Regions from separate parts of the Homo sapiens genome. Here region 2 is linked to region 1. The links come from fine-mapping of genetic effects on plasma protein levels. Region 1 holds a variant in brackets. A gene starts in the other region. All regions are shown on their reverse strands.

Region 1 (4,382 bases):
CCAAGAGCTCTGCCCTGAAGGCTTAGAATCTGTATCATTTAGTCAACAAAATGTAGACATAAATAAATATTGACACTCTGAAGGGATTGCCTATCTGCTTTCTAGGTTATTGCTAGGAATCCACAGAGAATATGTGAAGTTAGCCTTTAAAGATAAATCACTTGAAGTAAGAGGAAAAAAATCATTACCGTATACACATATGCTTACATAAAAGGCAAACAAGGAAGTGGAGACAAAATGAGAAGTGGTTTAGAAAAATAGAAAAGAAAAAGAACCTTTGGGTTGATTATGGAGGTCCTGGGAGTGCAGTTTAACCCAGGAGTTAAATACAGCAGACTGGAATGGATCTGAATGGCTAGGTCTGTGTTGAGGACGTACTAGATGCGAGGAATTGGGCTAGTCACTCTGGATATAGAGTTAAATGGGACAATGTTTCTCTAGGAGAGTACAATAAGTAATGGCTTACTATGCATCCCTTACAGGTAAGCATGGAGGGCTCATTGGAATGCAGAATGGAAGTACTCATCCCAACCTCACAGGCTTATAGGAGGCTTGCCAGAGAAGGAAGGATGTGATAGCTGGATCCTGAAGGGCCATAGGAATTAGTCAAACAATGGGAGTGGGGTGGGCTTATGTAAGAGAGAAGGTGCTCTCCAGGTAGGGGACCAGTATGTGAAATAGCCCATGGATGGATGTGGGACTACAAGTTAGGTGTGAATTGTGTGTTTGGCAGAATCATGGTCACAGAAAAAATCCTGTGACTATATTAGGTTACATATTAGGCAAAAGCAGATTTATGTCACAGATGGAATGTTTGCTAAGCAGCTGACCTGAAAATAGTGAGATTTTCCTGGATTATTCAGGTGAGCTCAATATGATCACAAGAGCCCTTAAGAGTGGAATATGGAGGCAGAAGAGGAGGTCAGGGGGATGTGATGTGAGGACTCATCCTGTTGATTCTGGCTTTGGAGATGGAGGAAGGGGCCAGGAGCCAAGGAATGCAGGCAGCAACTAGTAGCTGGAAAAGGCAAAGAAATATTAGATTGGTGCAAAAGTAATTGCAGTTTTTGCTATTACTTTTAATGGCAAAAACCACAATTACTTTTGCACCAACCTAATCGATTCCCCCCTGGAGCCTCCAGAGTAGCACATGTCCCTACCAACACCTGAATTTTAACCTAGGGAGACTGGGTTGGGCATCTGACCTTCGAAACCCGAAGATAAATGTATGATGTTTTAAACCACTCAGTTTGTGGTAATTTGTGACAGCAACAACAGAAAATTAATACACAGGAAGAACGTATTGAAAGTGCAGTGACAGTAGCAGTGAGACTGGAGAGGCAGGCGAGGAGAACACTTTATGCCCTGCTCTGCAGTGTGGGTTTTATCCTGATAGTCATGGGGAGCCCTGGATGGGTTTAGGCAGGGGAGTGATATGCTTTTGTGTTTTAGAAATGTCACTCAGGAAATAGGAAGGACTCGAGGCTACAAAGAGTTCGGAGACTGTCAGGAGGAAATGCATTGACTTGGGAATTTTAATTAATCTGAATCAGCGCAATTTGCTGAGTGTTTATCTGTTGGGGAGGAAGAAAGGGCAACATCAAGAATGTAAGCTAGGTTCTTGACTGAAGAGTTGGCACATGATGGAAAATTCACTGATATAAGATACACAGTAGTAGGTAGGAATGAGATTTGCAAAACACTGGTAGAAAGTAGATGGTGTTTTTTTCTGATGGCCACTTAATTCTCTGAGAAGTAG[G/A]AGGTAAAGTCATCTATTGAAAAATAGTGGGTTAGAGGTGTGAAGTGGAAATTCTAAGGAAGAAAATTAAGTTTGCATCATCTGTGAGTAGGAGTTAGAATTTCTGTTCACAGTGAAAACAGAGGAATTAACAGGCAGCTGTGAAGGCTGCAGCGAATGTTGGGCCTCTTGAACACTTTATTTCTTATGACTGGAATAGGTCCCTTATTCTTTTTTTTTTAGAACGAGTTTTGCTCTTGTTGCCCAGGCTGGAGTGCAATAGTGCAATCTCGGCTCACCGCAACCTCTGCCTCCTGGGTTCAAGTGATTCTCCTGCCTCAGCCTCCCGAATAGCTGGGATTACAGGCATGCGCCACCACACCCGGCTAATTTTGTAATTTTAGTAGAGACAGGGTTTGTCCATGTTGGTCAGTCTGGTCTCGAACTCCCAACCTCATGTGATCCGCCCTCCTTGGCCTTCCAAAGTGCTGGGATTACAGGCGTGAGCTACCGCGCCTGGCCCAGGTCCCTTTTTCTTAAACTACCCAGCTCTTTGTTTTAGCTTTGAGATGATCCATTGAAAAATTTTCTCTGATGGGGATATGTCAGCTGGTAATAAAGTGCCTAAATCTGGGCCAGTTTGAAGCCCTGTATCATGACCCCAAAGACCTTTTGAGACAATGGCTAGCATGTTGGGTCATCACTTCCACTTTTGGATGCATTTCTTCCTCTCCGTAGCTTTCTGGAGAATCATATAATCTCAGTTGGAAAATAACACTTGTTACCTGGGCAAAGACCTTGACCTCAAGCCCACATCCTTCCAGGCTCTTCCTGGTTGCCCGGGTCAAGTTGTCCATCTCATTTTGAAAATTTCTGGTGTTGGAAAATACATCTTCTGATGACAGCTCACTCTGTTTTCGGATGGCTCCAATCCCTAGAAATTTCTTTCTTATATTGAACTAAAACCTACCTCCCTGTAAATTTTACAAGGTTATTCGATTTCTAGAGAATTCGTAGAGAATTTAATCCCTCTTAAATCTGACAACCTTTTCAGTATTGGAAGGCAGCTCGCATGTACCTCTCTAAGTCTCTTCTTTTCTAGGCTAAGCAGTCTCAATTTTTTTACCATCACCAGTTTTTCAACTGTTCTTCGCGTGTCAGGTTTCCTTCCTTTCACTATCCTGGCTGGATTTCTCTAAAACATCATATGCTGCCACAATTTTTTTGTTTGTTTGTTTAAGTATGGGGACTTGGGTTGGAAAAAAGCCTTCCAGGTATTGTTTGAGCAGCAAAAAGTAGAACAGAATATCATCTCCATTTTCTATAATCAGTGAGAATTGCTAGCAATTACCCTCCTAAGATACCCTTTTTCCTGTAAGCTCCTGTCACCAACCTCAGCTTAGGCTTCCCTTCTCTTACCTCGATCTTGTTTTCTTGATAGATTCCTTCATTCAGTACAAATCTGTTGGGTAGGTTCTATCTGTTAGGTCATCTGATGCGTATTGGACCTAAGGAAGGGAATAAGCTCACCTCTGCCATCAAGGAGAGCAAAGTCTGGTTAGAATAAAATATAAGCAAACAATATTGAGGGGATAGATTGATCAGAAGGAGTATCTATTGCATTGGAGGAAGGAGATATATGAAGGATAGTAGAAATAAAGTGTATCATGTTGGTGAATTCATTCATTCATCCAATGAATATTGAATTCATGGCCCATTGCTCTTGTGAGCACTGAAGTTACAGTAGTGAAGAAAAGTGTGTGCATTCTCTAGTGGAGCTTCGATTCCATAATGAGAGATCGGAAAAAACCAACAAAACCAAACCCAGATAGCAAGTAAACATGGAATAGCCTTTATTTGAAACAGGGGTCTACAAACTATGGCTTATTGGCAAAATCTGGCCTGCCACCTTTTTATGTAAACAGATTTACTGGAACACAGCCACGCTCATTTGTTTATGTATCACCTACGGCCGTTTATACGCTATAGTGACAGCCTTGAATAATTGCATGCAGAAGCCATGTGGCCTGCAAAGGTGAAAACATTTGCTTTCTGGCCCTTTAAGGAAAAGTTTGCTAGCCCCAGTCTAGAAGAATAAAGCAGGCAAGGGAGGAGTGGTGAGCCCTGGGGAGGGGCAGGAGGACCGATTTGTCTTTAGAGAGGTTGATCAGAAGAAGCTGTGCTGATGGGGTAACATTTGAATAGAGACCTGGGGAATTGCAGGAGCAGCCCTGTGGGCACCTGGGGGAAGACCACTCTAGGCAGGAAGAGAAAAGCAAAGGCAAAGCGCCCGGGGAGGGATTCGGCTTGGTGTGCTCCAGAAGGTGCCCGGGCAGTGAGCCCTGGAGTAAGTCATAGGAGAGGAGGCCCATCACACAGGGCATTGCCAGGCCCAGAAGAGAGCCCTGGCCTTGGCAGGGTGAGGTGAGGAGCCACAGGCAGGCTTTCAGCAGGGACGCAATCCCATTCACTGCTGGAGGGGAAGGAGGAAGAAGGGCAGATGAGAATCTGTTGCAAAAGTGGGGCTCTGGCTAGGATGTCATCGTGGAGAACACGACAGGAAGTGGCGAGACCCTGGGTTCCACCTGAAAACAGAGTCAACATGATTTCCTGATGACCTGGGTGCAGGTGAGAGAGGGGAGTC
Region 2 (4,382 bases), not on the chromosome of region 1:
CCAGGCTGGTCTCGAACTCCTGACCTCAGGTGATCCGCCTGCCTCGGCCTCCCAAAGTGCTGGGATTACAGGTGTGAGCCACTGCGCCCAGCCTATTTATTTATTTACTTATTTATTTACTTTATATATTTTTTGGAGACAGAGTGTGGCTCTGTTGCCCAGGCTGGAGTGCAGTGGTGCAATCTCTGCTCACTGCAACTTCTGCCTCCCGGGTTCAAGCGATTCTCGTGCCTCAGCCTCCCTAGTAGCTGGGACTACAGGTGTGTGCCATGATGCCCAGCTGATTTTTGTATTTTTAGTAGAGAGGGGTTTCACCATGTTGGCTAGGCTGGTCTCGAACTCTTGGGCTCAAGTGATCCACCCGCCTCGGCCTCCCAAAATGCTGAGATTACAGACCTGAGCTACTGTCCCCAGCCAGAAGACATAACTTTTAGAGGCTACAGGATCTGGGTACAGAGTGAGAGTGGCAAAAGGCAGGGCAGGGGTTTGGGAGAGGGTTGCAGAGAACCCCGAGGGAGAAGCTGAATAAGAGAAGGGGAGACTGGGCCTGCATCGGGGAGGGAGGAGGGAATTCCCAGCTCCAGCCTGGTCTGCCTGGCTCCAGTGAAGCCGGCTGTTTCCTGCCCTCGGTGACCGGCCCACCCCCCCCAACCCGGGCGCAGGACCCAGGCAGAACAGCAAGGAAGGGCAGGGGTGTGGGGAACACCTCTTGCAGCAGGAAGATAAGTAAGCCGGGACAAGAGGTTATCACAGGCCCGGCTGTCCTTTCTGGGACGTAAGGGCGCTTGGCAGCCCCCCAAGCATCCTGGACTCCAACGTCTCTCTTGCTGGGCTCCAACGTCTCTCTTGCTGGGCTCCTCAAGATTCTGTCCTCCGGCTGGGCGCGGTGGCTAACGTCTGTAATCCCAGCACTTTGGGAGGCCAAGGTGGGTGGATCACTTTAGGTCAGGAGTTCGAGACCAGCCTGGCCAACATGGCGAAACCCTGTCTCTACTAAAAATACGAAAACTAGCCGGGGTTGGTGCCCTGTGCCTGTAATCCCAGCTACTCGGGAGGCTGAGGCAGGAGAATCGCTTGAACCTGGGAGGCGGAGGTTGCAGTGAGCCCAGATCACGCCACTGCACTCCAGCCTGGGAAATAGAGGGAGACTCTGTCTCAAAAAAAAAAAAAAAATCTGTCCCCGCTAATTACTGTGGGAGTCTAAGTCCTTTCCTTCTGCCCCTTGGAGGGGCTGACTCCTGGAGCAGCACCCCCTCCAATCCATCTATCCAGTAACCCATACTGTTAAGTTCCCTGAAGTAGAAGGGGGTTGGTGGGAGGAGCACGGCTGTGCTGGACCCTCCCCGCTAACTGATGGGAGGGTGAGGGGAGTTGGCAGTGAGAGGAAGGGCCCCTCCCAGCCATCCCGAGGGCCCCCAGGAGCCAGACAGGAAACAGCTCAGGAAAGACAGCAGCCGCAGCCGCAGCCCCAGCCTCAGGGGTCATGGCTGCGGGCGGCGGGGAAGCCCCCCCAAAACACGAGAGTGAGAGTGAGAAGGGCGATTTGGAGATCTAGCCGGACCCCTCACCCTCTCGGACACACCCACCTTTTTTTTTTTTTTTTTTTTTTTTGAGATTTCGTCTCACTCTGTAGCCCAGGCTGGAGTGCAGTGGCGCGATCTCAGCTCCCAGCTCACTGCAACCTCCGCCTCCTAGGTCCCGGTTCAAGCAATTCTCCTGCCTCAGCCTCCCGAGTAGCTAGGATTACAGGCGCGCGCCACCATGCCCAGCTAATTTTTGTATTTTTAGTAGAGACGGGGTTTCATCATGTTGGCCAGGCTGGTCTTGAACTCCTGACCTCAAATGATCCGCCTGCCTCTGCCTCCCAAAATGCTGGGACTACAGGCGTGAGCCACCGCGCCCGCCACACCCACCTTTTCTTTACCGTTGTTTCCTCGATTTTTCTCTACTCCCTAGCGCAGCTTAGTGCGCGCCTCCTCTGGACATTTTTCAGGGCTTGGTTGCGCGCACAGTAGGTCCCCAACACTGAATGTTTATGGGGTGACTGTGTGAACGTTCGCTGCAAGGCTATCCAAACTGGGATTGCTCCTTGAGGCCCCCTGGGCGGCCGTCAATTCTCCAAAGCTTCTACTCCCTTTTCCTTCCTTTTCCCCCAAAACGCAGTCCCTGCGCCCACTAGAGGGTGGTGGGCGCATCCAAGAGCGGCATCTAGAGTCCGCAGCAAGGTCAGAGCGGGCTTTGTGTGCGCGGTGAACATTTACGTGCACGCCTGGGCGGCCCTCCGTGTTGCTGCTGGGTGTGTGTTTTCTCTGCTCCCTGGTGCCAGCCGGGTTCGGGCCTGTCCCGGGGGTCCCTGGGCCCCAGCCCCGACATGCTCGGTCCTGGACAGCGCGCACCGCCACGGCGCACATCTGGGCGGTCCCGGGGTTCCTCACCCGCCGCCCCTCCCCCTTCTCCAAACTTTCTCTCAACTTCCCGACCTGCTCCACTCGGTGCCCCTCTCCGCTTCCCTCATGAATTATTCAGTAGCGTGAGCTCCAATCAGCGCGCCCGGGGCTCACTCGCGGAGCCCCCGCGTTGGGAGAGCTGCCCCCGCCCCCCGCGCGCCCCTCCCTCCCGGGCCCGGCGCCGCCCGGCCCAGTTCCAGCGCAGCTCAGCCCCTGCCCGGCCCGGCCCGCCCGGCTCCGCGCCGCAGTCTCCCTCCCTCCCGCTCCGTCCCCGCTCGGGCTCCCACCATCCCCGCCCGCGAGGAGAGCACTCGGCCCGGCGGCGCGAGCAGAGCCACTCCAGGGAGGGGGGGAGACCGCGAGCGGCCGGCTCAGCCCCCGCCACCCGGGGCGGGACCCCGAGGCCCCGGAGGGACCCCAACTCCAGCCACGTCTTGCTGCGCGCCCGCCCGGCGCGGCCACTGCCAGCACGCTCCGGGCCCGCCGCCCGCGCGCGCGGCACAGACGCGGGGCCACACTTGGCGCCGCCGCCCGGTGCCCCGCACGCTCGCATGGGCCCGCGCTGAGGGCCCCGACGAGGAGTCCCGCGCGGAGTATCGGCGTCCACCCGCCCAGGGAGAGTCAGACCTGGGGGGGCGAGGGCCCCCCAAACTCAGTTCGGATCCTACCCGAGTGAGGCGGCGCCATGGAGCTCCGGGTGCTGCTCTGCTGGGCTTCGTTGGCCGCAGCTTTGGAAGGTGAGTTTCCTTGCGGGGGGGGGCGCACCCCGTCACTCCTGGGACCTCCCCCCCAACATCTGGGCCTCGGAGTGGAGGGGCCGGCCTCTGACTACCCCTACCCGGGCACTGCAGTCCCAAACACTTCGGACCGATAGTGCTGGAACGGGAGGGGGGCGGGGAAGAGGCGCCCGACGGGTAGTGGAGTTTTCTTTTGTTTGGGAAAGAGATGGAGTCTGGCTACGACCCGGGACATTCCCCTGCCCGGGCTCCCCGAACTCTCACTGCTGATTACATACGCCCCTGGCTGCCTTTCCTTTCCTCCCTACCCCACTATTCAAAACTATCTGCAAAGTTTCTGTCCCAGTCCCACCTCCCGCCGTACATGAGGGAAGGTTTCTGGAGAAGCAACAGCAGACAAGGCACAACTTTTCGTGCTAGGCCCTAAAACGACCCCCAGCGCCAATTCCTTAGCGATCACACCTTGATCCTCCAGTTCCACACTCCTGCAACAGGATGGCCTCCTTTGCATTCACACAGCAAACCCCCAAACCGCTCTCCCGCCCACTGCTCCTGCCCCTGGTATAGGGTGGCTCCTTGGTTTCTACAGGCTGCACCCCATCCCTTTAAATGCGGTCTAGACCCCGGCCCCAGGTGAGTCCCGGGCTTCCCTTGAGACCTAGGAGCGGGTAGAAACTGACCTACACAGCCCCCAGGTAGAAACTGACCTACACAGCCCCCACATCGCCCTAACTAACCCAGTCTATCTCCCACCTCCTGGTCTCTCCAAGCATTTCTTTGGCCATGGATCGCTGTCCCTCCTGGTCCCCTAAAGGGGGAGCCAAGAGCCCTAGAAACTCTCCTGTGTCCCTAATGTCCTTTCAGTGAGCTGCCAACACCCCCCTTTCTCTGTCTGGTATGAAAGTGGTTATGGGGCGGTAGGCTATGAGGGACTCCCAAAGGGAAGGATTCAGCGGCGTTAGAAAAACCCTCTCCCCCTGGCTGGGCAGGACTGCCCTGGGCTGGGGATCAAAGGCTAGGTGTGGGGTTGGGAGTGAGGGGAGGCTTGCCCAGCTCAGAGAACGGAGAAGGGGGAACAAAAACCATGAACGAGGGGAAGAGGAAGGCCAAAGGGGTGGAAAAACCACGAGGACGAGGTGTGGTGAGAAGGAAAGACGCAAAGAGGAAATGGTGATTGTGACACCTATTACCTGAGTGT

Direction of the effects. Alleles are on the strand shown, and positions count from the first base shown. The strength of an association depends on the size of the effect and on how common the allele is.
For the plasma level of the protein whose gene starts at base 2,640 in region 2, allele A in region 1 goes with a higher level than allele G (weak association).

What was found. PIP is the posterior inclusion probability: the model's chance that the variant is causal. Protein levels are from antibody-based Olink assays in UK Biobank. Linkage for the fine-mapping came from a reference panel and not from the study's own genotypes, which makes the PIPs less certain.
Region 2: it holds the start of EPHB4, and the variant in region 1 is fine-mapped to the plasma level of the EPHB4 protein (UK Biobank, PIP 0.99).

What each region holds. Positions count from the first base shown.
Region 1 is chr13:106,125,126-106,129,507 of GRCh38, reverse strand. No RefSeq gene overlaps it. Among named protein-coding and RNA genes, the nearest start is that of LINC00460, 250 kb to the left of the region's middle. The variant G/A (reference allele first, on the strand shown) is at 1,760.
Region 2 is chr7:100,825,781-100,830,162 of GRCh38, reverse strand. It overlaps EPHB4 (EPH receptor B4), which reads left to right and starts at 2,640. Exons shown (of 17, transcript NM_004444.5): 1 at 2,640-3,184. The coding sequence starts at 3,133. It also overlaps a transcript of SLC12A9 not described here. RefSeq lists enhancers at 249-1,044, 1,841-2,636.